7 linked regions of the Homo sapiens genome follow. The protein of the gene in region 6 interacts with the protein of the main gene of each other region in a pairwise test. Each region holds a gene or a part of one and is shown on either strand. Other genes may lie near its edges.

The links.
Region 1: the proteins of AKAP9 (region 6) and TNIK interact in a two-hybrid assay, tested with the Homo sapiens proteins (2 studies listed by BioGRID and IntAct).
Region 2: the proteins of AKAP9 (region 6) and EEF1D interact in binary tests that used the Homo sapiens proteins (3 or more experiments, as listed by UniProt).
Region 3: the proteins of AKAP9 (region 6) and SSX5 interact in a two-hybrid assay, tested with the Homo sapiens proteins (one large-scale study listed by BioGRID).
Region 4: the proteins of AKAP9 (region 6) and SAMD3 interact in binary tests that used the Homo sapiens proteins (3 or more experiments, as listed by UniProt).
Region 5: the proteins of AKAP9 (region 6) and KIF19 interact in a two-hybrid assay, tested with the Homo sapiens proteins (one large-scale study listed by BioGRID).
Region 7: the proteins of AKAP9 (region 6) and MYO5A interact in a two-hybrid assay, tested with the Homo sapiens proteins (one large-scale study listed by BioGRID).

The regions. Positions count from the first base shown.
Region 1 is NC_000003.12:171,057,882-171,062,225, forward strand, and holds the end of TNIK (TRAF2 and NCK-interacting protein kinase), read right to left. Parts: 3' UTR 533-4,344; downstream 1-532. UniProt on the Homo sapiens protein: Serine/threonine kinase that acts as an essential activator of the Wnt signaling pathway. Recruited to promoters of Wnt target genes and required to activate their expression. May act by phosphorylating TCF4/TCF7L2.
Region 2 is NC_000008.11:143,583,916-143,588,259, reverse strand, and holds part of EEF1D (elongation factor 1-delta), read left to right. Parts: intron 1-1,407; coding exon 1,408-1,531; intron 1,532-1,969; coding exon 1,970-2,041; intron 2,042-4,344.
Region 3 is NC_000023.11:48,186,796-48,191,139, forward strand, and holds part of SSX5 (protein SSX5), read right to left. Parts: intron 3,474-4,344; coding exon 3,338-3,473; intron 937-3,337; coding exon 836-936; 3' UTR 832-835; intron 342-831; exon of another isoform or gene 285-341; intron 62-284; 3' UTR 1-61. UniProt on the Homo sapiens protein: Could act as a modulator of transcription.
Region 4 is NC_000006.12:130,149,653-130,153,996, reverse strand, and holds part of SAMD3 (sterile alpha motif domain-containing protein 3), read left to right. Parts: intron 1-4,344.
Region 5 is NC_000017.11:74,349,579-74,353,469, forward strand, and holds part of KIF19 (kinesin-like protein KIF19), read left to right. Parts: intron 1-822; coding exon 823-997; intron 998-1,128; coding exon 1,129-1,327; intron 1,328-2,288; coding exon 2,289-2,559; intron 2,560-2,637; coding exon of another isoform or gene 2,638-2,640; coding exon 2,641-2,762; intron 2,763-3,242; coding exon 3,243-3,376; intron 3,377-3,617; coding exon 3,618-3,723; intron 3,724-3,891. UniProt on the Homo sapiens protein: Plus end-directed microtubule-dependent motor protein that regulates the length of motile cilia by mediating depolymerization of microtubules at ciliary tips.
Region 6 is NC_000007.14:92,107,656-92,111,655, forward strand, and holds the end of AKAP9 (A-kinase anchor protein 9), read left to right. Parts: intron 1-838; coding exon 839-978; intron 979-2,466; coding exon 2,467-2,504; 3' UTR 2,505-3,018; downstream 3,019-4,000. UniProt on the Homo sapiens protein: Scaffolding protein that assembles several protein kinases and phosphatases on the centrosome and Golgi apparatus. Required to maintain the integrity of the Golgi apparatus. Required for microtubule nucleation at the cis-side of the Golgi apparatus.
Region 7 is NC_000015.10:52,521,883-52,526,226, reverse strand, and holds part of MYO5A (unconventional myosin-Va), read left to right. Parts: intron 1-2,024; exon of another isoform or gene 2,025-2,045; coding exon of another isoform or gene 2,046-2,144; intron 2,145-4,344. UniProt on the Homo sapiens protein: Processive actin-based motor that can move in large steps approximating the 36-nm pseudo-repeat of the actin filament. Can hydrolyze ATP in the presence of actin, which is essential for its function as a motor protein. Involved in melanosome transport.

The sequences.
Region 1 (4,344 bases), on a different chromosome or scaffold from region 6:
TGGGCCGTTTCAGTTAGACAGGGTAATGGGGCCAAGGAGGGTGTTGAAGACCGGAGATACTGCAGCATACAGAACACAGCGAGATACACTGCAGAATACAATTAAACTCAAAATACAGTGAAATAGAATAGGGGATGCAGAAGAGAGGATTCGGTTTCTGGGGCAATGATCTTTATTTGGTGAGGTTGAATGGGATTTACCTAGAGCAAATAAGAATTGTCTGCTATCACTTAAGGAGCTGATGTAGTAATTAGCAATGATAAGTTTCACTGGTCAAGATCAGGGAACCAAGAAGCCAGGGTATTTGTAGGACTGTCTTAAGTGGATATTGAAATAATCAAGAATGATGACAGGGTGGTGGTAAAGAGAGCAACAGTGAGCCAAAACCTAAAATTCTTGAGCAATGAGAAGGAGTAAAAGAGGGTAATGTAGGGACTTGGGAGGCTGATGTCAACAGCTTCAAAACAATGAGTGTTCAGGAGGAGGAAAGGAGAATAGTTTGGAAGTGGCAATGAGGAACAAGGAGGCATCCTACGATTAATGTTTTATTATTCATATTTTGACAAAGATAGCATATTATATTCCAGGACATGGTAGTTACCATGTGGGGAAACCTATCAAAGCATTTTTAATGACTGCTTAGAATAACTGTAGAAAGTACTTTCTCAATGATTTTTGTATGCAAGAAAAAAAATACCTGAAAGTAACCAAAAGTTTCAGACTGGAAAATATGCCAGGAAGATTTTCTTCTCTCATTCTCAGGTGAGGTTATAATCCAGTTTTAGCAAATGTTTGACAATTTAAAATACTTTTGAAAACTGGAGATTTAAAAAATGTAAACAATTGTAGGCACAGCAAAATCGTAGTTTTCCCTTCTGATATTATACATTTGGCATCTCTCTACAGTTATATTAACATAAATAAGGCAGCTAAAACGTTCAAAAATAGTTTTACAACATTCAATTTTAAAATTTCATTCAAGCTGTAATCTTTTGTTTCCTGCTGCCACCTAACATTTGAAGTTTTGATTCAGGGTAATGTCCAAGGTTTCTTAAACATACCATAATAAGTATTACTATTCCTTAACATTTATCCCAGGGGAAGAGATAAGGGAAAGGGGTAGCTGGGCATGATATTTACAGTGTACAAATAATGATCCATTGCCAGAAATGAAAACTCACCTTTCCACCAGCATTTGCTCAGCCTCAATAGTGCAATGCAACTTGGTGCTGATAAAAATAAACCATTAAAACCAAACCCTATCATGCAAGGAGTGAGTTTGAAGATATGTACACAAACTCAAAAATCTGTAAACTTTAGGACATTTTTATTTTTAACTGTATTTTCTACTTTTCATCCAAACATTTGTCATCATGGACTCAGAAGAATCCAAGATTTTGATCTAGATTTAAAATAACTCAAACATTACCCAGGGATTTTTGTTTAAAAATGCTTTTATGGGGATTTTTATTTTGGTATATTCTGGCACTTCCTGGAATGGCAGGTCTAGAAGAATAAAGTCCAAAGCACAGGGTTATGATCTCACACTGTTTAATGCTAAGCAAACTGTTGAATATTCTAGTTATCAATGGAAGAATTCCCAGAATAATGGTGTAGAAATAAAAACAACCTAGAAAATGTTTGGTAGGAATATACAAATTGTCAGTTTTGAACTTGCAAATTCTCAAGAGGTTTTCTTCTTTGCTGGGACTCCTGAAAAGTGATCAATTTTACACCCAATTTATTTAAGATCCATGAAAGGACAGCTTACTTTAGGGTTCCTGATATATAGTGACCAAGGAGATATAGTGGCATTTATGAGAAATATTAGCAGGTAAATTAAATCAAATTTAGACTTTTGGATTTTAGATTTATGTTACAACTATGTAGTCTCAGGGGAGGTCAGTTTTTGGTTGGTTGGTTATGTTTTGCTTGATTTGGTTAGATTTAAATTTTGAAGAATGAACTAAAAGGTAACTAACAAGTTAGAGACTGTTGAAATGATCAGAACATGGTACCAGTGGTGATTCTGGAATATAAAGAGCATAGTAGCATCATTCAGAATTGTTATCAGCATGCTGTGGATTTTCTCATGTTTTCCTGCAGTAGGTTAAAATTAAAAGTTTTATCAATAACTATTTTTTTTCTTAAAAATAATGTAGCACATCTTACATCTTAAAGCAATCAGCACAAATGCAAGTGATGCCTGTTCAAGCAGACTTTCAAAGACAGCACACACTGTTAACACAAAGAGCTCTTCCACGTTTCAAGAATACAGTGACGGGAACTGGTACACATAGTAGTAGGGAAAGCATTTTTTTAAAAGCTTCGTGGAATGTGAGACTTTAGCCCCTTCCTTTCCTGGCAGTGGATAAAACCAAAATGGTTCTGGCTGGAATTTCACATCTTTCTAATAATCTACTGGACAGGAGGGACCAGAGACACCAATTACCAATGAGTCACAAGAACAGACAAAAATTGTTAGTAGGTTTTGACAACCAGGAACTAAGGTGTTTTTAAAAAACATGTACTTGATGCAAAGTATATTAGGAGTGCACCCTAGAAAACAATGTCAAAGTGTTAGAAAAATGGAGCCCCTGTCCAGGTGACCTTGTGAGATTTCACCCATAACTTAATATACCCTGTTTAATAAAAATAATAGTTCTAGGTCTTCTTGAAGGATTGTTTAGAAGTCTCCAAGAAAAATAATGAGATCTATCTAAAATAGAGCTGTTCAATTTTATGTGGAACTTAGTGAAGGCTGTCTTCATTTGCATTGTGTGTTATGACAGTGGTCTGGCTGGAACTGGCAGGGGGAAGAGCCTCATTATTTGAAGGAACTTCACTGGTCATCCATTCCTACCACCACTGGATGCAGGAATCCATGCTACAGTATCTTTGACTGGCACCCAGGAATGATGGTCACCTGCCAGACCCCAGACCCAGACTATGGTGTGGGCAGGCTCAGTAGATTTTACTGGATGATTATTAATTTAGAGCAGTAAGAACTGGCAGATCTAGTGAAACTTACTCTGAGGGGAGGGCTCAGTTTCTCCAGTTTCTCTTTGTAGGAAAATAAAAATAAAATGAGCCAATTTCTAGAGACAAAATCACCTATAAAAAGATCAGAACTGAAGATTTTTTTTGTTGAGATGCTATAAAAATGGATGAAAAGCAACCGTTCCTCCCCTACCCCCAAAAAGAATTAAGGCAATTCAGAAAGTTTGGATGAGCCACAAGGACACCATTCTGACGTATTCTGCATGTTCTAGGCCTCCTTATGTCAGGGCTGGGGTCTGTCTTGCTGGAGGAAAATTTATTTTTGAAGATAAAAGCTTCAGTGAATTCTTTAAATATCTGTCTTTTAAAGAGCACAGATTTCTGGGGGGCCCATTTAAATTTGGATTTGCCTTGTACTCAGTGTAAAATATTAGTACAAAAATATAAAAGGCATGGCTTGATGTTTAACGTGTGTTTTATTGTTGTTGGCACCAGAAAAGCTCATGTTCTATGTTATGTCACTGTACATACTGTAAACAAGACTGCATTAATATTGTTTTCTTATGATTTGTTTCAATGACTCTAGATTTTAAAAAATACATTCACAAACTACCTTATGTTTAAACACAATGATTCCCTTTTATTTCTTAACTGTACCCAAAATCCCACAATAAAAAAATCATTTAAAGCTGTGTGTTTCAAACTTATCACTTAGAAATAAAAACAAAACAAAACATAAAAACAAAGATCAGTTTGCAACATAATTTAAAGAAGCTTCTGGTTTAAAATACCACAGCAGCAATATAAAGAGCTGGTGGCAATCACATTCGGGAGTGAAATCGAAATCAATATATTTTGTCCACATCAGCATCCAATTACAGTAGTTGTTAAATTCAATCCAAAAAGTTATTGCTGAATTTGTGGCATGGAATTTGAGAAGATAGTATTGTTCAGCAGCACAACCACAGCAGTAAAAATGAGAACAGGAGGATTTCATTGCTTTTGAGAGCTAAAGGGACCATGAGGAGGATATCTTGCTGATTGCCTGAAGATAATCCTCAGTTACATTCCTGCATATTACCTGCTTTAAATAAATGCAAATGACAACCACCTTTTCAGGAGGGGCATAATAATGTAATCCAGAAACTAGAATGTTTCCCCTTCTCTTCCCCATCTTGCCCAAACCACTAGATTGAAATGGCTCCATTTTCCTAATGTGTATTTCGTTCTCATTAATAGTACATCAGCTGCTTGTGTATTTAGGCAAAGTCAGTAAGATCGTAGTTTTTTTTGTTGTTGTTGTTCCATTTACAGTAATTATTTTCTCCAGAAACAAGCCACATT
Region 2 (4,344 bases), on a different chromosome or scaffold from region 6:
AGTCAGGGAAGGACTCTGAAGGTCCCAAGCAGCTGCTGAGGCCCCCAAGGAAGTGGTTCCAACCTTGGACCCCTAGGGGTCTGGATTTGCTGGTTAACAAGATAACCTGAGGGCAGGACCCCATAGGGGAATGCTACCTCCTGCCCTTCCACCTGCCCTGGTGTTCACGGTGGCCTGGTCCCTCCTTGCCGAGAGAGTGTCCTGGGTCAGGGACGCAGAGGACGCTCACAGACTCCAGCCCTTTGTTACCGAGAGGACACTTGGCAAGGTCCAGCGATGGTCCGGAGTCCACACACAGACTGGCGGCAGGGCAGGAGGGGGACAGTTCTGTTGTGCTTGGTTGGACAGTAAGAGGGTCTTGGCCAGTCCAGGGTGGGGGGCGGCAAACTCCATAAAGAACCAGAGGGTCTGGGCCCCGGCCACAGAGTCATCTGCCCAGCTCCTCTGCTGCTGGCCAGTGGGAGTGGCACGAGGTGGGGCTTTGTGCCAGTAAAACCACAGGCTGGATTTGCCTGCGGGCCATGGTCCCTGTCTAGGGCAGCAATTCTCAACCTTCTTGCTCTCAGGACCCCAAAGAGCTTTCATTGTATCTATTGATTTTTACCACATTAGCAATTAAAACTGAGAAATGGGCCGGGCACGGTGGCTCACGCCTGTAATCCCAGCACTTTGGGAGGCCGAGGCGGGTGGATCACCTGAGATCAGGAGTTCAAGACCAGCCTGGCCAACATGGTGAAACCTTGTCTACTAAAAATACAAAAAATTAGCCAGGCACAGTGGTGTGCACTGGTAGTCCCAGTTACTCGGGAGGCTGAGGCAGGAAAATCGCTTGAACCCAGGAGGCGGACGTTGCGGTGAGCCGAGATCGCGCCGCTGATTCCAGCCTGGGCGACAAGAGTGAGACTCCATCTCACACAAAAAAAAAATAACAAAAAAACTCAGAAATGCTAAGTGTACTTATTTGTTGAAGAAACTTGTTACATATTACTAACATCTTTTTTTTTTATGAGAAATACTTTTCCCATAACCAAAAAATTCAGTGAGCAGAATGGCCTTGCTTGAGGTTTTTGCAAATCTCTCGGGTGTCTGGCTTAGTGGGAGGCAGCTGGGCCCTCATACCTGCCTCCGCACTTCAGCTGTTTGACATAAACCCAGCTTCGTGTGAGTGAAAGGGAAGGGCCTGGGGACCCTCAGAGGTTCTCGGACCACACTTTGAGAACTCCTCGTCTGGAAGACAGGCCTGGGGATGCCATGTGGGGTGAGGGCTTACGGGCTTGGTGTCGCTTTGTGGAGAACCGCTGGTGTCTGAAGCGGGTGTCAGCCCCACTGCACCTTGGTGCTTCTGGGCTGTCCTGATGCCGAGGCCCACTTCCCAGCCATGCTGACTTTGCCTCTTTCCCCTCCCAGCAGAAAAATGGCTACAAACTTCCTAGCACATGAGAAGATCTGGTTCGACAAGTTCAAATATGACGACGCAGAAAGGAGATTCTACGAGCAGATGAACGGGCCTGTGGCAGGTGCCTCCCGCCAGGTGAGAGCTGCACGTGGGGCGGCTGGGCGGCTCTGCTGCCCGACAGGAGTGGCCGGGGCACACAAAGCGGATTCAGCCAGGCCAGGAAGGCAGAGGCACCCTGGCCCAGTGGCTCTGCTGTGGGTGCTGGGAGTGGGGTCTCGGGGCAGGCGGCCTTGGCCGGGCCCCCGGGCCGGGTCTGCTCAGGGCCCTCCTGCCGGCGCCTGTGCACTTGGTGTGGGGCCAGGCCTGGCACTCCTTCCCCCGCAGACATGGGCGCCTTTGCCTGTCGTCACAGCCTCAGGCATCTCCCGCTTTTCTGGCCCGCCAAGCTCTCGTTCTGTGCAGTACTTTCTTGCTGTCTCTATGTGAGGGTTCATGGGGTTTTTTGGTTTGTTTTTTAATTAAATTCTTTTTTAATAATAAAAAAAAGACTGGTTCTTTCTGCACTGTCTGCAGGAGAACGGCGCCAGCGTGATCCTCCGTGACATTGCGAGAGCCAGAGAGAACATCCAGAAATCCCTGGCTGGAGTGAGTACCCGCGGCCCACGGACCTGCGGGCTCCTGCTCGGCCAAGCAGCATGTCTGATTTTTCCTGATGCTGCTGGTTGTTTTGGCTTCACAGCAGAGTCAGGGCAGGGTGCACGGCGCTGTGCTCCTTGGGACGTGTGGCTCTGTGACCTCCATGCCCGGACTGCCACGGACAGTGTTCTTATTCTCGCGTCCCTTCCGTGCTTACCTCGTCTGCCGGCTGGCGGTCACACTGGCCGCTCCTGTGGGGCCGGCTGGGAGCTGAGTGGTGCCATTTGCAGGGTGTCCTGTGGGCACCTGGCATGAGAGCCTGTGCCTCCCTGCTTGCTCCCTGTGGCAGGACTGTGTGTCTGCTGGGCCTTCCCACATTCCCTCTTAGATCTTGCCTCACTGGGGAGAGAGAAGTGGTGGTTCTGCAAGGCGCAAGGAGTTCAGAGCCTAGAGTTGGCACCGTCTTGAGTTGGAGACCCAGAAGGAGCCCTGTATCCCTGCTTGGCCTCCAGGCCCCGGGCCAAGATCAGGAGTTGGAGGCAGTAGCTGTGGCCTGACAGGCTGGCTGGGGAAGGGGTGTCCTCCGGGAGGTGGCAGCCCTGGTGTTCCCGAGGAGTTGGGACTGCGTTCTCCCCGGGACGGGGTGGTGTCCTGGCCCCAAGAACGGGGTCAGTGTTTCTGTGGCTGCTGCTATGGCTTTCCACAGCCTCACGCTGGAAACAGTACATCTGTATCATGCCGGGTTTCCAGGCCAGAAATCTGAAATGTGTCTCACGAGGCTGTCCCCAGTGTCAGCAAGGTCGCCATCCTTCCAAAGGCTCAGGAGGAGTCTGTTCCTTTGCCTCTCCCAGATTCTGGTGGATGCCCACGTTGCTTGTTTCAAGGTGCTCAGCAGGCAGCCTCATCCCCGCCCCGCCTCCACTTCCATCTCGCGCCTCTCTCGAACCTCCTGCCTCGCTCTGTCACTTACGTGGTTCTTGTACTTGCTTTGGGCCCCCAGGATCCCAGGTCCAGGATGTTCCCACCTCAAAATCCTGAATTTAATCGTGTTTGCCAATTCTTCTTTTTGCCATGTAAGGTAGTGGATTTGCAGGCTCTGGGGGTTGGGACGTGGGCGCCGGAGATTCTCATTGTCTCATTTGTAAGGTGCATTGCTCCTCACCAACATCTGCAGAAGCCTGGGTCCCCCACAGTGTCCCTCCAAAGTCCAGAATCCCATCCAATCAGGCATGGGGGATTGCGTGGTCCATCCTGAGGCAAAATTCCTCTCCATCTGTGGACCAGTGAAACTGGAAAGCAAGTTATCTGCTCCCAAAATACAATTGTGGGACAGGCATTCCCTTTCAAAATGGGAAAAAGAAGAAGGAAACAGGGCGTCACTAGTCCCAGGCAGTTTCACAGTCCAGCCCGGCGGGTCACGTGAGGTTTGAAGGGAGCGCTCCTGTGTGGCCCATGGTCCCCCCCGCTGTCATTTTTTAACATCCCTATTCCTACCAACAGCATGTTCGTGGCAGTTTAGGTTGTTCTAGAAGATGACGTGTTTTCTCTGCCCTGCTCCTCACCTCCTCTGAGTCCTCACCGAGGGCCTTAGCATCTGAATTCTGCCAACAGGGTGCTCAAGACAGGCTAGGGTTTTTCTTTTGGAGGGGGTGGGTGAGTTGTGGACAGAGTCTTGCTCTGTCGCCCAGGCTGGAGTACAGTGGCATGATCCTGGCTCACTGCAACCTCAGCCTCTGGGGTTCAAGCGATTCTCCTGTGTCAGCCTCCCGAGTAGCTGAGACTGCAGGTGTCTGCCACCAAGCCCAGCTGACATTTTTTTTTCTTTTTTTTTTTTTTTTTAGTAGCGGCAGGGTTTCGCCATGTTGGCCAGGCTGGTCTTGAACTCCTGACCTTATGATCTGCCCACCTCGGCCTCTCAAAGTGCTGGGATTACAGGCGTGAGCCACTGTGCCCGGCCCAGTCTAGGGGTTTTCTGTCACGCTCCTCAAAATTCTTCCCGCCTCACCACTGCCCAACTCCAAAGCCATCTCCACATTGTTAGGCATTCCAGCAGCACCCCACTTCCTGGGCCAGGATCTGTGTTGGTTTCCACTTGATGTTGCTGTAACGTTGCCACACTTCCGTGGCTTAAAACAGCACAAGTTCCTCACCTTACAGTTCCGGGGGCCAGAAGTCTGAGATCATCTTATGGGGCAAAATCAAGGCTGTGGTCCTTCTGGTGTCTCTGCGGGGAGAATCCGCTTCCTTGTCTCTTCTGGCTGCTGGAAGCTGCTCACGGTCCTTGGCCCAAGGCTCCCAGGCAGCTGTCTTGT
Region 3 (4,344 bases), on a different chromosome or scaffold from region 6:
ATGTTCGTGAAAGGTCACCACGTTCTGCTTCTCATCATGGGCATGTGTCATATCCCCGAGGCTGAGGCAAGAAGCGAGAAGGAAAGTAAGTGGCAGTGAGTTCCCACCACATGACAACTCAATCTCAACTCCTCCTGACCTGCAGACCCTGCCCACTCCGATTCTGCCCTACCTCAGGACCTGTACACGCCTTCCATGGTTCCTTGAAGTGAACCATCTGCTCATACCACAGTGACTTCCTCGCCTGGGTTATCAATTCCTAGGCTAGAGGAAGGTGTGGCCCGCATATCAGTGCTGACCTGGGGTTTGGGAACCCACAGCATCCTGGGTAGGGAGGATCCCTGGATATAGAGGGCAGGGAGTAGAAAGAGCATGGTTAGGCAGGCGCAGAGGCTCACGCCTGTAGTCACAACACTTTGGGAGGCGGAGGCAGATGGATCACGAGGTCAGGAGATTGAGACCATTCTGGCTGACATGGCGAAACCCTGTCTCTACTAAAAATACAAGAAAAAAAATTACCCGGTCGTGGTGGCGGGTGCTTGTAGCCCCAGCTACTGGGGAGGCTGAGGCAGGAGAATGGCGTGAACACGGGAGGCGGAGCTTGCAGTGAGCCGAGATCATGCCACTGCACTCCAGCCTGGGGGAACAAAAGGAGACTCCCCCACCCACAAAAAAAAACATGGGAAATTTCATCATTCAGCCTCAATGCTGTACCCTAGAAAATTATGAGAAGGGAATGATTTGGGGAACAACTGATAAGATGGGATACCAGTACCATAACAGAATAGCACATCTGCAAGGATGTGGGAGATGAGCCAAAGGTTCACTTACGGAGTTACTCGTCATCTTCCTGAGGGTCGCTGATCTCTTCATAAATCACCAGTTGCTTTCTCTCACGCACTCTGTGGGTCCAGGCATGTTTCCCCCTTTTGGGTCCTATGATGGAGAAGAGTTGGAAGATGAGGGTTGGGTAGATTGGAGAGGGTTGGGTTGATTGGAGAGTGTTAGGCTCTGTTTTCTCCAAAAAAGGAGATGCCTCCCCACCACCAAGTGCCCATGGGTCTTCTTTATCCAGTTTTTCACATTCTCTGGCTTAGAGAGGCTGAGACCTTAGACCCACACCAATACAGGCCAAATGCAAATTAAAGTTTTAGCTTCTGGCTCCTTCCGTTGTCAGGTTTAGATTCCCAACCTCTTCACTTACGGGAACATTCACCCTTACCTCCTTTCATTCAGCACGTATTTATTAAGGCCACACAGGCGTACCTTGTTTTATTGCACCTCATTTTCATACTGCTTCACAGATGTTGCAATTTTTTTTTTGGAAATTCTCACCAATTTTACACTTTTCCATTATTATTATATCTGTTATGGTGATTTGTGATCAGTGAGCTTTGATATTATTACTGCAATTGTTTTTATTGTTTTTTAGTCTTTTAAAATAATTTCTGTTTTTTATTTTTGTGGGTACACAGTAGGTGTATATACTTATGGGATACATGAGACGTTTTGATACAGGCATGCAAATGCGTAAAAATCACATCATGGAAAATAAGGGATCTATCCCCTCAAACATTTATCCTTGGTTACAATCAATCCATTTACACTCTTTTAGTTTTCATACTGCACAATTAAGTTATTATTGACTATAATCACCCTGTTGTATGTAATTATTCTGGGGGTAACAGGAACTGCACTCATAGAAGTTGACAAACTTAATCGACAAATATTGTGTGTGTTCTGACTGCTCCACCGATGAGCTCTTCCCTGCCTCTCTTCCTTTTCTTGGGCATCTGTATTTCCTGAGACATATCAACACCGAAATTAGGAAGATTAACAACCCTACAATGGCCGCTAAGTGTTGAAATGAAAGGAAGAGTCGCATGTCTCTCACTTTAAATCAGAAGCTAGAAATGGCTAAGCTTAGTGAGGAAGCATGCTGAAAGCCAAGACAGGCTGAAAGCTAAGCCTCTTGCACCAAACAGCCAAGCTGTGAATGCAAAGGAAAAGTTCTTGAAGGAAGTAATAGTATATAATGCAAAGGAAAAGTTCTTGAAGAAAATAATAATACTAATACTCCAGTGAACACAAGAATAAGAAAGCAAAACTGCCTTACTGCTTAAATGAGAAAGTGGTCAGGATAGAAGACGAAACCAGCCACAACATTCCCTTAAGCCAAAGTCTAATTCAGGGCAAGACCCAAACTCTCTTCAAGTCCATGAATTCTGAGAGAGGTGAAGAAGCTGCAGGAGAAACGTGTGAAGCTAGCAGAGGTTGGTTCATGAGGTTTAAGGAAAGAAGCCGTCTCCATAACATAAAAGTGCAAGGTGAAGCAGCAAACCCTGATGGAGAAGCTGCAGCAAGTTATCCGGAAGATCTAGCTAAGATCACTGATGAAGGTGGCTACACTAAACAACAGATTTTCAATGTAGATAAAATAGCCTTCTATTGGAAGGAGATGCCATCTAGGACTTTCATAGCTAGAGAGCATTGACTTCAACTTTGAAAGAAGTTCTACTGTGGGTAAAATGCTATCCAAAAGCATCACATACTACAGAGAAAGCATTCATGAACGGAAGAGCTAATCGATGTGGCAAATTTCATTGTTGTCTTCTTTTATGAAACTGCCACAGCCACTCCACCCTTCAGCAACCACCACCTTGATCAGCCAGCAGCCATCAACACCCAGGCAGGATCCTCCACCAGCAAAAAGAGTGTGACTCACTGAAGTCGCAGAAGATTATTAGCATTTTATACAATGAATTATTTTAAAATTAAGATATATACATTTTGAGACACAATGCTAGTGCAAACTTAGTAGACTTCAGTATATTGTAAACATAATGTTTTTATGCACTGCCAAACCAAGAAAAAAATGTGTGTGACTCACTTTATCGCAGTGGTCTGGAACTGAACATGCAATATCTCTGAAGTACACCTATATCGGGTAACAGGCATTGAGCTGAGTAAGATATGATCCCAGGTAATCACAGATGGAATTGCTTCAGCACCTTTCATGTCATCAGGCCTTCTAGACTTAATTTAATGCCTCCAAACAATTTATGAACTGAGATTCTTTATTTCCAACTTATAAACTAGGAAACTGGAGCTAAGAAAATTTGGAAGACTTGCCCCAAGTCACGTGGTTTTTTTATATGAATGACAACTCCAGTCTGTGTCTCTGGAAGTCATGTGTAACATCTCATCTGGAGCTGGGCGAGCTCCTCAGCCCAGCCTGGACCCAGGCTTGTCTGGGGTCCATGCCACACACCCAGTCCACACACCTGAACTTAGCGAGAAAAGCCAGAGTGGTTGTTCCCAAATTCTTTTCTCTTACCAGATGTCTTGTTAACCTTCTCAGAGGTATTTAGTTTTCCTGAGGGGCGCAGCTGTTTCCCATTGTTCTGTGGGCCAGATGCTTCTGGCACTCCCTTCGAATCATTTCCTTCCTCTGCTGGCTTCTCGGGCGTGATCTTTATAATGTGAAGGTCACAGATAAACAGTATCAGTGACATTTCTTTAGTGCTTTAGAGCTTACAAAGAATCTTCACATGCATTACCTTAATCAATGTTCTCAACAATGCTAGGAGAGTTACACTTGCCTAAATTAGGAGAAACCTGGGAGGGGAGGTTAGATGGGAAAGGAATGGCCTAACTGAATATGGTTTCCAGGGATAGAATTCTTCTTATCTTCACACTGTTTTAAGACTGACATTCTTGCAAACAGCAAATATCTCCATGTAATTGAGAGTTTGGTATACAGAAGATTTGGAGCATAGCATTCTAAGAATTCACAAGGTCTACAAAGGGAAGAGTTTCCGTAAAATACAAGGGATCCCATATAAGCTCGTAGACAGCTGCTGGGAGAGTAAATGTAAAGACATACAGAGGGGACAAAACACTGCTGAACAAGATGGTGTGGGGAGATGTATACAGGGAAGGGAGAGGGAAAGAAATGGTTTGCTGAAATTAATCCAGGCAGCAAAGAAAGCAGTACCAGATCTGGCATACCAGCCTACCGAGGCACCAACATTGAATGTGGAATTCAGTGAGGTGGTACCCATAACAATTCTGGTTGCATTGGGATGTATCACTGACCAACACTCTTAAGCTACTTTTTTTTTTTTTTGGATGGAGTCTCGTTCTTTTGCCAGGCTGGAGTGCAGTGGCAGGATCTCGGCTCACTGCAACATCCAACTCCCATGTTTAAGCGATTCTCCTTCCTTAGCCTCCAGAGTATCTGGGACTACAGGCAGGCACTACCACGCCCCGCTAAGTTTTGTATTTTTAGTAGAGACGAGGTTTCACCATGGTGGGCAGGATGATCTCGATCGCTTGACCTCA
Region 4 (4,344 bases), on a different chromosome or scaffold from region 6:
TAAATATATATGAAATTTAGGGCCAGGCATGGTGGCTCATGCCTGTAATCCCAGCACTTTGGGAGGCTGAGGTGGGTGGATTGCTTGAGCCCAGGAGTTCAAGACCCGCCTCAGCAACCTGGTAAAACCCCATCTCTACTAAAAGTACAAAAATTACCCCAGCTTAGTGGTGCGTGCCTGTAGTCCCAACTATTCTGGGAGGCTAAGGCACGAGGATCACCTAAACCTGGGGAGGTCAAGGCTGCAGTGAGCCATGACTGAGCCACTGTACTGCAGCTTGGTGACACAGTGAGACCCTGTCTCAAATTTTAAAAAATAAATAAATAAATAAATATATATATATATATATGAAATTTAATGGGTAAATCAATCAAATACCCTTCCATTTAGTTCACTTAGAGTGGCCATTCAAGGTTCTTTCACAATTTTAGTGTAATTTTTGGTGGTGGTATATAATGAAAGATCATCAAAGGTTTTACCCGAGAACATATTTCATGGAGAAATTCTATGTATTCAATTAACCAAATTAAACATGAAACATCTACATATTTTTCTTCTGAGCAAAGGGAAATAAGAATTGCCTGTATTATTTTAATAGAAACATAAGTAGCAAATATCTGAATGCTTCTCTGTAACAGCATGTTCTCAGTGCTTTCCACGGATTAATCTACCTAATCCTCTCAGCAACCATACTGTGGCTTTCGCTTGTTTCCCCTTAATCTTCAGGTTGTAAGGAACTGTAATAGCCAGTCATCTCTGGCTGTTAGAAAAGTATGCCAAATGGACACATCTGCAAAATACAGTTTTAAAGCAAAAGCCTGTCAAACTTACGGTCTATACACTCCTTACATGTAGGGAGCACGTGTTAATATTAACAGTTCCCAAAGTGCCTAGCAGAGCACCACGTGTGACACAGCAATGTAATCTTGATTTTGTGAATGCTGAGTGAATTAGTGGAGGTTGGTAAGGCTGTTGTGATCACTAATGTCGTAGCCTTAGGGGTCTTCATTGGAGTGTGGCCTACAAAGGCTTAGTGATGAATATAAATGGACTATGTTAAGCAGCTTTTCAAAGAACCATTGGTGACAGTAAGGTGGAGGTCTGTCATAGCTTATGTGAGGAGCAGAGAGATTTCAGACCTGATGCTGTCCCCTGTGCTTTTGTCCAGGCCTCCTGCTGTGGCATAGGTGTATCTTCCGCACCATTCCTCAAGTATTTCACCCTTTATATCCAAAATATGGAGTATGGTTTTTGTAATGACTGTACTTATTGAATAGAGTTGCCTGTTGATTGTTTTATTTATTTATTTATTTATTTATTGAGACAGAGTCTTACTTTGTCGCCCAGGCTGGAGTGCAGTGGCACAATCTTGGCTCACTGCAGCCTCTGCCTCCCAGGTTCAAGTGATTTTCCTGCCTCAGCCTCCCAAGTAGCTGGGACTACGGATGCACGCCACCACGCCTGGCTAATTTTTATATTTTTAGTAGAGATGGGGTTTCACCATGTTGGTCAGGCTGGTCTTGAACTCCTGAGCTCAGGTGATCCACCTGCCTCAGCCTCCCAAAGTGCTGGGATTACAGCTGTGAGCCACCGTGCCCGACCTGATTGTTTTAGACAAAAGAACGAATCATTTTCGGTTTTTCCAGGAAGTACCTCCCTGACTCAGCCCTAGGCAGCTGGGATTTCCAATTTATAAAACTCTTGTGTGCCTCCTAAAATAAAAGCAAGTTTGACCTCGCAAATACCTAGTTAACAAATGATCCCGTAAGAGGACAGTTGTCCCTGCACCAAACCACCCCCACCGCCTGTTGCTCCTGCCATTGTGAAAACACTGAGTGCTTAGGGAGCTGGTGGAGACAGGGTGGCAGAACAGCAGCAGCCGGGGTGGGCGGTGGTCCTGGCTGTTAACACTGACCCCCCATCACCTCCATGCTCATTAACCTCCTTCCTCAAAAAACTTTCTTTCAACAAGGCATTTAAAAATTCAGAATGTAACCATTTACTTTATTAGATTATCTAAAATATTATCAACTAGGAATGTGTTACTGGGATCTACTGGATGTTGCACAAGACAAGTAGGAGGGAGTTGAGAAGGAAAATACCAAACACAAACTGAAACCCTTCCCCAAATTTTCCAAAAAATCCTTTCAGATGCCATAGTTTCTGCCTTCCTGAGAAACAATTTCAATCATCATCTCTTTAAGTGAAGTACGTGAGAATCGCCAGCTAATAAAGTCTCAAAAAATTAAAAAAATCGGCCAGGCATGGTGGCTCATGCCTGTAATCCCAGCACTTTGGGAGGCCGAGGCGGGCAGATCACCTGAGGTCAGGAGTTCGAGACAAGGCTGACCAACGTGGAGAAACACTGTCTCTACTAAAAATACAAAATTAGCCGGGCGTGGTGGCACATGCCTGTAATCCCAGCTACTAAGGAGGCTGAGGCAGGAGAATCGCTTGAACCTGGGAGACGGAGGGTGCGGTGAGCCGAGATTGCGCCACTGCACTCCAGTCTGGGCAACAAGAGTGAAACTCCGTGTTAAAAATAAATAAATAAATAAATTTAAAAAATAAAGAATTTGAGTTTGGTTTTGGCCCAAATGGAGTAACTGGTACTGGTCTAGTCTTCCCACTGTTAACATGGATAAAGCTGGAAAAAAAAAATATGTATGAGGCAACTGCACTCAGGCATTAAGGTACAGGCAATGCAGGACCCTGATCCTTGGTAACGGAAAGACATAAGATGTGCCTCAGTTTTGTGCATGGGTTACTTTCTAGCTCACTGTACAGAATGGTGGGAGGCAAGCAGCATGCGGAGGTCTCATGGAGCTGCACAGGAAGAGATTAAAGTTGAGGAATGATGAAGCAGCTGGCCTTTGTAGGACAGGCACTGGAGGAAAGTGGGCTGGGCCGAAGTCTACACACGGATCCCCTGGGGATCCTTGGCTGAGAGCCGAGACTTCACACAGTGTTGCTAATAAGAATTCAGGCTAGGTGTGGTGGCTCACGCCTGTAATCCCAACACTTTGGGAGGCTGAGGCAGGCAGATCACTTGAGGTCGGGAGTTCGAGACCAGCCTGGCCAACATGGTGAAACCCTGTCTCTACTAAAAATACAAAAATTAGCCGGGTGTGGTGGCACACACCTGTAATCCCAGCTACTCAGGAGGCTGAGGCAGGAGAATGGCTTGAACCTGGAAGGCAGAGGCTATAGTGAGCCGAGATTGTGCCACTGGACTCCAGCCTGGGCGATGGAGTGAGATTCTGTCTCAAAAAAAAAAAAAAAAGAATTCTGGCCCAGTGTGTAGAGACCCTGCAGAACACCTCAGCATTCATCTGAGACTCCAGAAAACAATGCCTCATGAGTGAGAACCATGCCTAAGTTTGAGCCAGGACCTTAGCTAGGACTAAGGACAAACAACAAAACAGAATTGCCGAAAGAAATGATAAAATCAAGTCTGACAGGACCAGAAGATCCACCATAATTTATCTGCCTATCAGAACAAAATTTAACACCCTTTAAAGGAACATAATTTAATCCAGACTCCCCACTAGTGGATCACTAGAGGTTACAGTGAGCGGCGCCATTCCCATTTCCAACTCTTGGTTCCTGGACCCATGAATTCTGGCTATGGAAGAAACTGCACTGTATGCTGGATGCTGATTCAGAGCTTATACAGCCTGGGAGAACCTTGTCCCAGCCCCACAAGGTATTGCCACCTAGCTGGTGCTGTAACTGAGTCTTCAACAGGCCACTCCACCAGTCTGGCAAGCCAGCTGCTTCAGGACAGGACGGTGGGGAACAGGATAAGACCAGTAAATTCCATGTATCATCACCATAGGGAATCTCAGCAGAGAAATGAAATACACGCACACACACACGCGCGCACACACACACACATGAACCAAATTGAAATTCAGAGCTGAAAAGAACAGTTATCTGAAATGAAAACATCACCATGTGCGTAGGCTTAAAAGCATATTGGAAAATGAAAAGAAAGGAGCTGTGAATCTGCAGATAGATTAATAGAAATTATCCAGTCTGAGTAACAGAAAGAAAAAGGATTAAGATGATTAATTTGTAGGACATAATCTGGGGTTGTGAAAAGGGGGGCTTTCTTTTTGTTCCAACTTTTAGGTTCAGCAGGGGATACGTCGTGCAGGTTTGTTATATAAGTAGATTGCATGTCGTGGGGGTTTGGTGTACAGGTTATTTCATCACCCAGGTAGCGGGCATAATACCCGATAGGTAGTTTTTCGATCCTCACCTTCCACCCACCCTCTAATCTCAAGTGGACTCCGGGGTCTATTGTTCCCTTCTTTGTGTCCATGTGTACTCAGTGGTTAG
Region 5 (3,891 bases), on a different chromosome or scaffold from region 6:
AAGAGTAGGTGGGATCCCACGAGGGAGAGGCACGTGAGCAATGAGCTGCGCAGGGCGCACACTAAGGGCTGTGGCGTAGGGCTGCGAGGTCATGCCTGCACCCCCGGAATGGGCTCCGTTTCCTTGTAGACCTGCATATTTGCTATGATGGTTTTCCAACAGACAGTAAAGCTTTTTTTAAAAAAAAATTTACTAATATAAAGAGAGAGGCAGACAGTAAAGATTTTTTTTTTTTTTTGAGACAGAGTCTTGCTCTGTTGCCCAGGCTGGAGTGCAGTGGCATGATCTAGGCTTACTGCAACCTCTGCCTCCCGGGTTCAAGCGATTCTTCTGCCTCAGCCTCCCAAGTAGCTGGGATTACAGGTGCCCGCCACCACACCTGGCTAATTTTTGTATTTTTAGTAGAGACGAGGTTTCACCATGTTGGCCAGGCTGGTCTCGAACTCCCGACCTCAGGTGATCTGCCTGCCTAGGCCTCCCAAAGTGCTGGGATTACAGGTGTAAGCTACTGTGCCTGGCCACAGACGGTAGTTTCTAGGGGCACCTTTTTATAGTTGGCACAGAGGTGCTGTAAGGGTTAGCAGGAGCCCAGTTCATACCAAGGAGCTGGGAATTGCTTTTGGGCAACAGCTTGAAGACTCAATGTGGGAGTGGGGTCTGGGAGGATGTAGTAATCTAGGGGGTCTTCCTGGAGGAAGCAGTTGGACAGGAAGTGGGAGCACTGAGTTGGGAAGAAAAGGAGGGGAGGGGCCCAGGTGGGCCCAGGCTTTGCTAGCTGAACTTGCCGCCTCCTCTACCTTGCCCACCCTCACCCATCGGCAGCTGAGGTCCAGCTGCACAGCGGGCAGGGTGAGAAGGCTGGCATGGGACAGCTTCGGGAGCAGCTCGCCAGCGCCTTCCAGGAGCAGATGGATGTGCGGAGGCGCCTGCTGGAGCTGGAGAACCGCGCCATGGAGGTCCAGATTGACACCTCCCGACACCTGCTCACCATCGCCGGGTAAGCCCCCCTCCCAGGACCCTCCAGGCCCCACCCCTGTGCCTGGGACAGAGGAGCACGACCTGTGGCTGTACAGTGTGCCCTGCCCCCATGGCCTGAATGCCCTGTCTCTCTGGGTGGGGCTGCGGCAGCTGGAAGCATGAGAAGTCCCGCCGGGCCCTCAAATGGCGGGAGGAGCAGCGAAAGGAGTGCTACGCTAAGGACGACAGCGAGAAGGACTCAGACACAGGTGATGACCAACCAGACATCCTGGAGCCACCCGAGGTGGCCGCAGCCCGGGAGAGCATTGCAGCCCTGGTGGACGAGCAGAAGCAACTGCGCAAGCAGAAGGTGTCCAGGGTTTGGGGGGACAAGGAGAGTGGGTTTAGGGGACAGGGTGAGCAGGTTTGAGAGGCAAGGCGGAGGGGCCAGGGTGGGGGTAGCCGTGAGACTTGGGAACTCAGGCCACAAATCCTGTGTGACTTTGCTAAGCTCTTTAACTTCTCTATGCGTCACATTCCCCACCTGTAAAATGGGAGCAGTCCATGGTGCAGCCCTCATGGGGTTGCTGGGAAGATTACATAAATGCCTGGCACATACCAAGGACTCAAAAAATGGTAACTAATGTTATAATTAGGGTTTTTCAGGCTGGGCACAGTGACTCACACCTGTAATCTCAGCACGTTGGGAAGTTGAGGTAGGCAGATCACTTGAGGCCAGGAGTTCGAGACCAGCCTGGCCAACATGGCGAAATCCCGTCTTTACTAAAAATACAAAAAAAAAAAAAAAAAAGCCTAGTGTGGTGGCTCACGCCTGTAATCCCAGCTACTCGGATGGCAGAGGAATAAGAATCACTTGCAACCCTGCAGAGGTTGCAGGGAGCCGGGATAGCGCCACCGCACTCCAGCCTGGGTGACAGAGAGAGATCCTGTCTCAAAAAAGAAAAATAATAATAATAATTAGGGTTTTCCCAATAACAGATCTTTGCCTTCTGTTCTGGGACATACCCAGACCAAAGGGGCTTTAGGGTATCATGAGCCCTGAGGGGGTCACATGGGCTGGGGTTGAGCAGTTATCCCCCAAGCTGGTTCCAGGGGTGGTTTGCGGTCAGGATAGCAAGAAAGTGGACACTGAGGGGCCACCTTGGAGCAGTCCCTGATTGTAAGGCCCAAGATTCAGCTTTTAGGGTTGGCCTCAGGCTGGAGCTCCAGACAGATGCCTGGAGTCCAGGCGCTGGAGGGTCGAGGACGAGCTGGGCAGGCGGATCGGACCCCTCTCCCCGCTGCCAGATGCTGACCTGCGCCTCCTGCAGCTGGCGCTGGAGCAGCGCTGCCGGGAGCTGCGCGCGCGGGGCCGGCGCCTGGAGGAGACGCTGCCGCGGCGCATCGGCTCCGAGGAGCAGCGCGAGGTGCTCAGCCTGCTGTGCCGCGTGCACGAGCTCGAGGTGGAGAACACCGAGATGCAGTCGCACGCGCTGCTCCGCGACGGTGCGCTCCGCCACCGCCACGAGGCCGTGCGCCGCCTGGAGCAGCACCGCAGTCTCTGCGACGAGATTATCCAGGGCCAGCGGCAGATCATCGACGGTAGGGCCCACGCCCCCGCGCATCTGAGCCACCCGCGGGGGGGCCGCTGGCACTCACTGAGCCCTGCCCCTTCCCCAGCAGACTACAACCTGGCCGTCCCGCAGCGCCTGGAAGAGCTCTACGAAGTGTACCTGCGGGAGCTGGAGGAGGGCAGCCTGGAGCAGGCCACCATCATGGACCAAGTGGCCTCCAGGGCCCTGCAGGTGGGTGGGCGCCTGGGCGGCCTGAACATGGGCACATGTGCCCAGGGAGGGGCTGATGACCAAGGCAATGCCTTCAGGCAGCTGGAGGGGACAGGACCAGGCTGGCTGGCACCCCAGGGAGTTGACTCCCTTTCCTTCTTACCCCACCCAAAGCCTTGTCAAGCCTGAGTAAGACCCTCCTCCTTGGGCACTCCTGGGCATCACTTGCTCCCACCCAGGGTCTGAGGGTCAGGGCTGGCCATCTGAGATATCACAAATGGCTCCAGCTGCCCTCCCAGGAGACCAAGCATCAGGCAGTGCCACTGGGGAAGCCTAGCAGACCACAGCTTAACCCCGAGGACCCAAACACAAGCCCACTGCCCTTCTGGGGCTCCCAGGCCATCTTACAGCCCTTGTCACCCTGTAAGCCTTTGTGACTCTGTGCTGATTTGGTCCAGGACCAAATCTTCTAACTGTCCACCCTGGCTCCCTCCTCCCCAGGACAGCTCCTTGCCCAAAATTACCCCAGCAGGAACCTCACTGACCCCAGATTCTGACCTGGAGAGTGTGAAGACATTGAGCTCTGATGCCCAGCACCTGCAGAACAGCGCCCTCCCTCCCCTCAGCACAGAGAGGTGAGATGGGGGCCACCTGCCCCAGCCCCCACCCTGTGCCCTGTCCCAGAGAGGCCAACCCAGACTAAGGCTAAATGGGGAACACAGAGCAGCAATGAGAGGGAGCAGGTGGCCCAGGTCTGGAGCCAGGACTCCTGGGTTCTCTCTCCTTTCACACCAACAGCTTCTCCCCTGGGGTGGGGGTGGGACCTCGGTGAGATAGCCTGGTCTACAGCCACTCATCTTCCTCTGCCAACTTCAGTGAAGGCCACCACGTGTTCAAGGCTGGTACTGGGGCCTGGCAGGCAAAAAGCTCCTCTGTGCCCACCCCACCTCCCATCCAGCTCGGCAGCCTGGTGACGCAGGAGGTGAGCTCTCAGTACCCGATGGCCCCACGAGCTCCACTGCAGCGGGTGCGGGACATGGGGGTGGACAGCAGCAGTTGGGATGGACCCTTTCCCAAACGGCACCAGCTTGAGGCCCCGCTGTCTCTGCTGAGTGGGGCATGGGGTCCCTGCTGTGTTTAAGGGTTTCCT
Region 6 (4,000 bases):
CCTGGCCAACATGGTGAAACCCTGTCTCTACTAAAAATACAAAAAATTAGCCAGGCGTGGTGGCAGGCGCCTGTGGTCCCAGCTACTTGGGAGGCTGAGGCAGGAGAATGGTGTGAACCCGGGAGGCGGAGCTGGCAGTGAGCTGAGATTGTGCCACTGCACTCTGGCCTGGGCAACGGAGCGAGACTCTGTCTCAAAAAAAAATACAAAAAAATTAGCCAGGCATGGTGGTGGGTGCCTGTAATCCCAGCTACTCAGGAGGCTGAGGCAGGAGAATCGCTTGAACTCAGGAGGTGGAGGTTGCAGTGAGCCGAGGTCACGCCACTGCACTCTAGCCTGGGCAACAAAGCAAGATTTGGTCTCCAAAAAAAAAAAAAAAGAAAAAAAATATACATAACCTAAGGCTTAATGTAAAAATGTAAAAACCAGTGTTTAAATTTGTAACTGATTTCCAAGGGTATAGCAAACAAGCTGACCAAGTGTTATTTAGTGTATGCTATGGTTAGATATTGGGAAAAGTATTGACTAAAATTGATACTCTGATCATTATGAAAAGCTTAACAGTCTTCATGACAAGATACATTTATACATACCCAATTTATTGAGACCTCTGCCACAAGCATTGTATTGGACATTCTTATGTTGACTTAGTAGCATCTTTGAATTCATTGGAGAGTTGTCTCTTTCTCATCCCAAGCTCCAAAGCTGAAGCTTGGAGGAGATACATTATGTGTGTACAAGTGACCCACCTTTTTGGGGAAGGGAGTGGAGGCAGGTTGGTAACTTATATGCATATTTCTGGATAACTTGATTCATGTACATATTTTTAATCCTTTAGGTACCCAGGCACTCCAGCTGATTTCAATCCTGGTTCTTTAGCATGTTCTCAGCTTCAGAATTACGATCCTGACAGAGCCCTAACAGATTATATCACTCGGCTAGAGGCACTGCAAAGACGACTTGGAACTATACAGTCAGGTGCTCTGAGTTTAACCACATCTTGGCAGCACCACAGTGCGAGACCCACAGCTCCCCTTTCTTTGAAATTCTTTCACACTCATTAGGATAATCAAAGCTTCCAGTTTAGTGCATGAGCTAATTATTAAGTTAGCCAAAGCTTAAACTCTTGTAACCAGCAGAGAAACTGACTTTAAATAATTTAAGTGAAAATATGATTTATCACCCCAGATCCCACTCCTCCCAAAAATGATTTCCTACTATGTTCATTCAGCGGACTGATGACACAAAATGCACAATGAGCACCAGTGTGCAAGGTACTCTGAGTCTACAGAGCCTAACTGGAGAACGTATTCCTAAGTAGCGCATGGCAGAAAGTGGTAAGGCCGTGCCGCAGCACTCCAGCCTGGGCAGCAGAGCGAGACCCTGTCTCAAAGAAAAAAAAAAAAAAAAGAAAGTGGTAAGGCATGCAAATCGGGTGGAGTTAAGGAGGAAGCACTTACTTTAAGCACTTAATGTAACCATTATCCCTGCTACTATATTGTGCTTTTATGTATCATCGAAAAAAACTATCCCATTTAAAATACTTTGTAAGGATTATTTTTTCTTTGTTCAAAAACAAAAAACAAGTCATACTTTAAAATAAAGGTGGATTCCCTGTTCATGGAAGGAAAACCTCTTTTCCCTATCTCACTTCAGTTCACTCCTGATTCAGAGACTTTGAATCATTGAGTAGTTTATCTCTTCCTTCAAGAAATCATTTGTTTACACCCAAGCATCTTGTAGTAATAGGAAACTTTTATTATCATAGCTGAGTTTGTTGGTTTGCCTAGGCTTGTTTTGTTTTGAGCATCCAAATTTCACAAGACCCAGATTTTGAAGACCAAAAGATTTTTCAAAAATGTATGAGGTATAGAACATCCAACTTTGAGAGCACTTTAAAAAAACTCTAAATATTAGTCTCACCTACCTTGCCATAGAGCCAGTCATGGTGATTTTTACATATATATTCAAAATCTCTTAAAAGTCAGCTTAAGTATATGGGCTGGGCGCGGTGGCTCATGCCTGTAATCCCAGCACTTTGGGCGGCCGAGGCAGGCGGATCACTAGGTCAGGAGTTCAAGACCAACCAGTTCGAGACTAGCCTGGCCAACATGGTGAAACCCCGTCTCCACTAAAAATACAAAAATTTGCTGGACATGGTGGCATGTGTGGATAGTCCCAGCTACTCAGGAGGCTGAGGCAGGAGAATCACTTGAACCCAGGAGGCGGGGGTTGCAGTGAGCCAAGATCACACCACTGAATTCCAGCCTGGGCAACAGAGTAACACTCCACCTTGGGGGTAGTGGGGAGAGACTCAGTTTAAGTATGAAGAGGACATTTTAAGGAAAAAAAGGGCTTTAAAAAAATGGAGAATAATAATAATTTCCTTTGTGTGAACTCTGGTGGGTCTGATACAGGTAGCAATGTAATTTGAAATCAGTTGAATTTCCTGTTTTTCTCTCATAGGTTCAACTACTCAATTTCATGCTGGCATGAGAAGATAATCCTTTGAAACATCATTAATTGAAGTGATTTTAAATAGATTTCCTTTTGTAAATCAATGGTTCTTTTGTGCTTTTGTATTGTGAATATTCAATGGGACCAATATGAACACAGCTTATGATTGTATACAAATCCCTTGCCAGCACATGAAAACAAACTGGAATTTGTATATATAAGCATTGTGTATGTATTCATGCACAATAATTATTGAATTACCTGTATATTTGTGGAATGCTAATTTAAAACATTAAATTATAAACCTTGTGTATTTATCAAATGGGTGAAAAGATTAAACTTTTACGCATTACAATACTGCTGAATGTGTAGCTCGAGGTGTCCTGCACTTTTCTTATAAGGCTACTGAAGTTACATGTTTTGCCTAATATATTCTACTGGTGATGAAGACAGATAATATCACTTGTAGAGACCTATTTTTGTATAATGGTAGAAGTTTTGAATTTTATGGGGTATTTTGTCAAGTACTGAAATAAAAATGACTTCACCATTTTCACCACACTGTATTTGAACCTTCTTCATTTTTAACTGAGCCATAGTTCTTGGTACATAGCATCTCATTACTTATGTCAAATATGTAGGAGTGAGAGATTCAGAGAAAGTTGTCCTAATCTTAGAGTTAATACTGTTGAAAGTTTTCCATGTGTCTTTGTATCAACTTTACATCTACATAGTGTTTTTTAAAAGCTATATTGGTATTTCATGATTAATCAGTATTTACTATATTACAGTTAGTGTTACTTGTTTCCAAAGATGTGTTCTCACAAATCCATGGCCCACTAAAAAGATGAAGAAATCATTAACTCAAAAGATCTTAATCACATTGCAGCCGAATTAAACAGTATCCCTGTTGTCCAAGCCAAATTCAGACTGGGAGGCTCTCACAGAGATAATACAGATCGCAATGTTATTTCTCATCTGGAGTCCTCCTCAATAACATGGCAACTCACTAAAACAGCAAGAGGACTAGTATTTGATGCTTACACCTGGAGGATTTTGTCTTATTATTTGATGTTCCATGATTTATACCAACACAAACAGGCATGGTAGAAAGTTGTACATGCTTGAACATTTCTAATTTCAGTCATCCCTCGGCATGTGTGGGGGATTAGTTCCAGGATCCCCCTTGGATATTACAGTCCGCGAATGCTTAAGTCTCTTATAAAACAATGTGCTATTTGCAGATAGTCTACATACATCCTCCTGTGTACTTCAAATCATCTCCAGATTATTTGATACCTAATACAATGTGAACATTATGTAAATAGTTGCTAATACTGTATTTTTTTATTGTGGGGTTTTATTTTTAGTATTTTGAACCTGCAGTTGGTTGAATCAGAGGATACAGAACCCACAAATAAAAGGAGCCAACTATACTTAAATTTTCCACATTAGAAGCTGGGTTCCAATAAGAGGAATTCTAAAAATAGCAAACGTACTCTAAAGCAGTTAGTTGAAGGGGCAGGTTGTGGGTAAAAACCTT
Region 7 (4,344 bases), on a different chromosome or scaffold from region 6:
TCCTGGGCAAAACAGCAAGACCGTGTGTTGAAAAAAAATTTTTTTTAACCTCTTTGTCATTATAAAGACAGACTGGCTTAGAGATCAAGACTGAAGTTGGGGCTTACACTGCCTTCTTCTAAATATACTTATGCCTAATTAATAGTCTGGTTACTTGGTTATTTGTTGGCAAATTCTTTTTGTGAATGGGCCTTAGCTTAATGGCAAGCAGAAATACTTATCAGGCATCCTGTGTGCCAGGTACTTTGCTTAATGTTTAGAGGATTTAACAATGAACAAGATACAGTCCTTTCCCTCAACACGCTCATAGTCTGCTTCTTACATTCTTGACCCACTTTGAATCTATAGGGGCATAAATAACCTGCTGTTACCTCAACAGCAGGCAGACAGCTGGTATGATATTTATTAGTAGAAGTTAGGGAATGGGTTGGGACATGGGGAAGGTTGGGCTGATTCCAGAGATAAAAACTACTATTGTAATTACTAGAGGAATAGGAAAATCATTAGAAGTATTATCAGTGGATAAGCACAAGGATCTTCCCCTTGCAGAGGATTATAGGAAGGAAGTTCTAGGATAGATTACAAGGAAAGATGTATTAGTGATATGCCATAATTATGGTATTTAACATTGTGGTTAAATCTGAAAAGTGCTCTTTAAAAAAATGTCATTCAGATCTTAAGGGCAGATTTTAATGTGTGATACAGATCAGTTCCTATTACAGTGAAGGACAAGAGACTGTTCAATTTCTTCTTTTTAGCCAGAATGGTAATGGTTTTGTCACAGCAATTTAACAAGGCTTCCATTTTGTAAGTTTTTCCAGCAGTATAAACATTTTAAGGACAATAGCTAGGTTCTTGGGATACTTGTCTGGAAACGAATATTTTGGTTAAAACATGTTTTGTTGATTTTTAAAAATAACAGCTTTATTGAGATATGTGTCTTATACCATATAATTCACCATTTAAAGTGTACTATTCAATGGTTTTTGGTTTATTCACAGAGTAGTATGTTGATGTGTTTGTGGTCAACCTGCCTTGCTCCCAAAAGAATTAAAGGAAACTATGATATCTCATTGCTTCTGATTTTGAAAATATTTGCTAGTCTTGACTTGCCAGTGGATATCTATATCATACATCATCCATAGGTGCTTTTGGTAACTAGAAGCAATTCTACATTTGTGGAGTAGGGTTTATCAATTAGACCTAGAAGGATTATCGGGAACATTATAATGAATGGCATGCTATTCCTCCTGTCATCATGTTCCCAGACACCATGGATAGCACCATGGTATCCATGCTATAGGATGGTCAAGATTACTTGAAGCTGGGTTTTTTTTTTTTTAATTTTTTATTTTTTTTGAGACAGGGTCTCACTGTGTCACCCAGGCTGGAGTGCAGTGAAATGAACATGGCTCACTGTAGCCTTTAACTCCTGGGCTCAAGCTGTCCTCCCACCTCAGCCTCGTGAGTAGCTGGGACCACAGCTATGCACCCAGCTAATTTTTAAATTTCTTCTAGAGATAGTCTCAGTATGTTGCCCAGGCTGGTCTTAAACTCCTGGACTCAAGTGATCCTCCTGCTTCCACCTCCCATAGTGTGGGATTACAGGCATGAGCCACCACACCCAGCCTATTTTATTTATTTATTTATTTATTTATTTATTTATTTATTTAGGTTCAGGGTCTCACTCTGTTGTCCAGGCTGAGGTGTAGTGGTGTGAACATGGCTCATTGCAGTATCGACCTCCCAGGTGCAAGCCATCCTCCCACCTCACCTTCCTGGGTAGCTGAATCTACAGGCATGTGCTACCAAACCCAGCTAATTTTTGTACTTTTTACAGAGACAGGATCTTGCTGTGTTGCCCAGGCTGATCTCTAACTCCTCAGGTCAAATGATTCTCCTGCCTCGGCCACTCAAAGTGTTGAGATTACAGACATGAGCCACCATGCCTGGCTTATTTTTAATTTTAAAAAAGTTTTAATTTTTTTGTTTACTTTTGTGTTTTGTTTTGTTTTTACCTGAAGCTGTTTGATTAGGAGGTTCCCATGTGTGCTGAGATGCTGAGTATTGTAACAGTGCAAAGACAATCTAAAATTCCACATTTGCAAAGCATGTTAACTTGCCTAGATGAAACAGCTCTTAAGGTCAGTAGATTGTATATGTGTAACTTTCCATTCCCAACATATCCTCTCATATATACAGGAGCCACATGGCCTAGATTTTTTCTGGGATAGATCCACTTTTATATTCTATGGCACTGTCTCTTCAAACTACTGATCTTGGAAATTCTAATATTTTCATGTCGAGACTGTATTTCTCAGACTGCTTCCAACATCTTAAAGAGGAACAGAAATCTCATCTCTGATCATGTGCCCTGACTTGGAGTTTGGCAAGGATGTTAGCTGTCCTCAAGTCTCCTGTCATGCCCTTTCCATTTGAATTTCCTCCTGGTGTTCCTAGGCCTGTTAACGACTTGCTGTTCTCCTAGTTCCGCAGCTTGGAAACCTCCGTATCTTTTTTCTTGTCTTTCACATTCGACTTCTTCTATATCAATTCTAATTTCAGTTGACATCCAGCTGATAGCTCAGATTTGGAACTCCCACTAGTACTCTTTTTCTCTGTCTTAATGTCCCAAACATGTTTCTGTCTTATTACGGTTACTGTATTTGTGTATATGTTTACCACTCCCACGATACTCTAAGCCCCCTGACATGCTGTTTTGTTTACCTCCTGTAGAGCCTAGCCCAGTGTTACACAGAATAGCTGCTCATTGAATATTTGTTGAATGAATACTTAAGCAGGGGAGGGATGGAATGAAAATAATGGTTTGGCATGATCAGTCCACTTGTAGGGACGAAGCAGGGTATAAAGATGTGGTTAAACAAGTAAACACATTTTCAGGCATGTTGAACAGGATGAGTAATAGAACTGGGAACCAGGGAGACCAGGAAACTTTCAGGAAACAAAATGTGAAGTGGTGAAGGTCTGGTGGACTGAGGCAGGGGCAGAAGGTGTGGGAAAGAAGAGGATAAATCCGAGAGACAGGTCTCTCCGAGATGGATTACATATAGGATGGGAAGGAGCAGGAGTAGTATGAAATAATGCCAGTAGCTCCAGACTTGGAAACTGAAAATTAATTCCTGTTTCATCACAAATTTTGACTGCCTCTGTGGAACTTGAATGCTACTAAGAAATACTTCTTTACATAGCTTGACAAAGCAAAATGCCCATTATTTCCTCTTGAAATTTGTTACTGTTTCTTGAAGTGTGAAAGTTTTGTGTATTGTCCAGAAAAGATTACAGAGAGATTCTGATTCTAATGAGAATTGCTGCTGCCACATATTTTAGATCTTCCTGGTACTTTTAGCTTTTTTTTTTTTTTTTTAAATAATGAAAGAGAACTGGAGGAAGCTTTATGAATGGGCTTCCAGGGATTTAACTGTAACCTCAGGGGAGGGGTGACAGGGAATGCTAACTCGTGTATGGGAGAATGTGGGAGAGGAGAGATGATCCGCCTTACTTCTTACCTCAGAAGGTAATTTAGTTTCTCTGTTTTTCATTTTATGATGAATTTTGCCTCCATTGGGAGAATTCAGGAGTACGTGGTCCACTAGAGGATAGACTTGGATGTATTTGTCTCCACTTCAGGCAATTCCCAGTGAAGTATGAGGTACTGTTGGAAGTCTAAACTTCTGATCTGTGGAGTAAGGTCTGGCCATAGACAAAATATTATGTGAGCAATTCCACTTCTTCCACCTCACCTGAAGGCATGTCCTCCATCCTACAGTGGTCTTCCTAGACTTATTCTATTTATCTTCCTAGGGAGTTTGTCCTTTTCTCCCCAGCACCACCCCACTCCCAATCTTTCATCAACTTTATTGAGGTATAATATACTTGAAAAGTCCCTCATTTTAAGTGTACAGTTTGATGAGTTTTGACACATATATTCTGTCATGTAACCACCGCCACAAACAAGATGCAGAACATTTCCATCACCCCAAAAGTTCCCTTGTGCTTTGTCTCTTATCTTCCCCAACATCTTCAGGGAGTTTACTGGAGTTATGCTTGCTCATTAGGGCAGAAGGAAGTTTTTTCTTTTTGGTTTTTCCGAAATGAATGCTATGGTTCCACCTTAGCCCAACCAATAGAGATACTTATTACAAAGGCCTGGCATTGGAGATCATGGCTGTGGAGTTTCATTTTCAGTGGGAGGCGGAAGTGGATATAAAAGGAGTTTAGATGATTTTTGTTTAATCTTTCCTTCACACACTGACCACTTTGCCTTTATTAATGATGTCTGCCTTTGATGCCTTCTGAAATGCCCTTTGGTTAATTTTGCCCTTT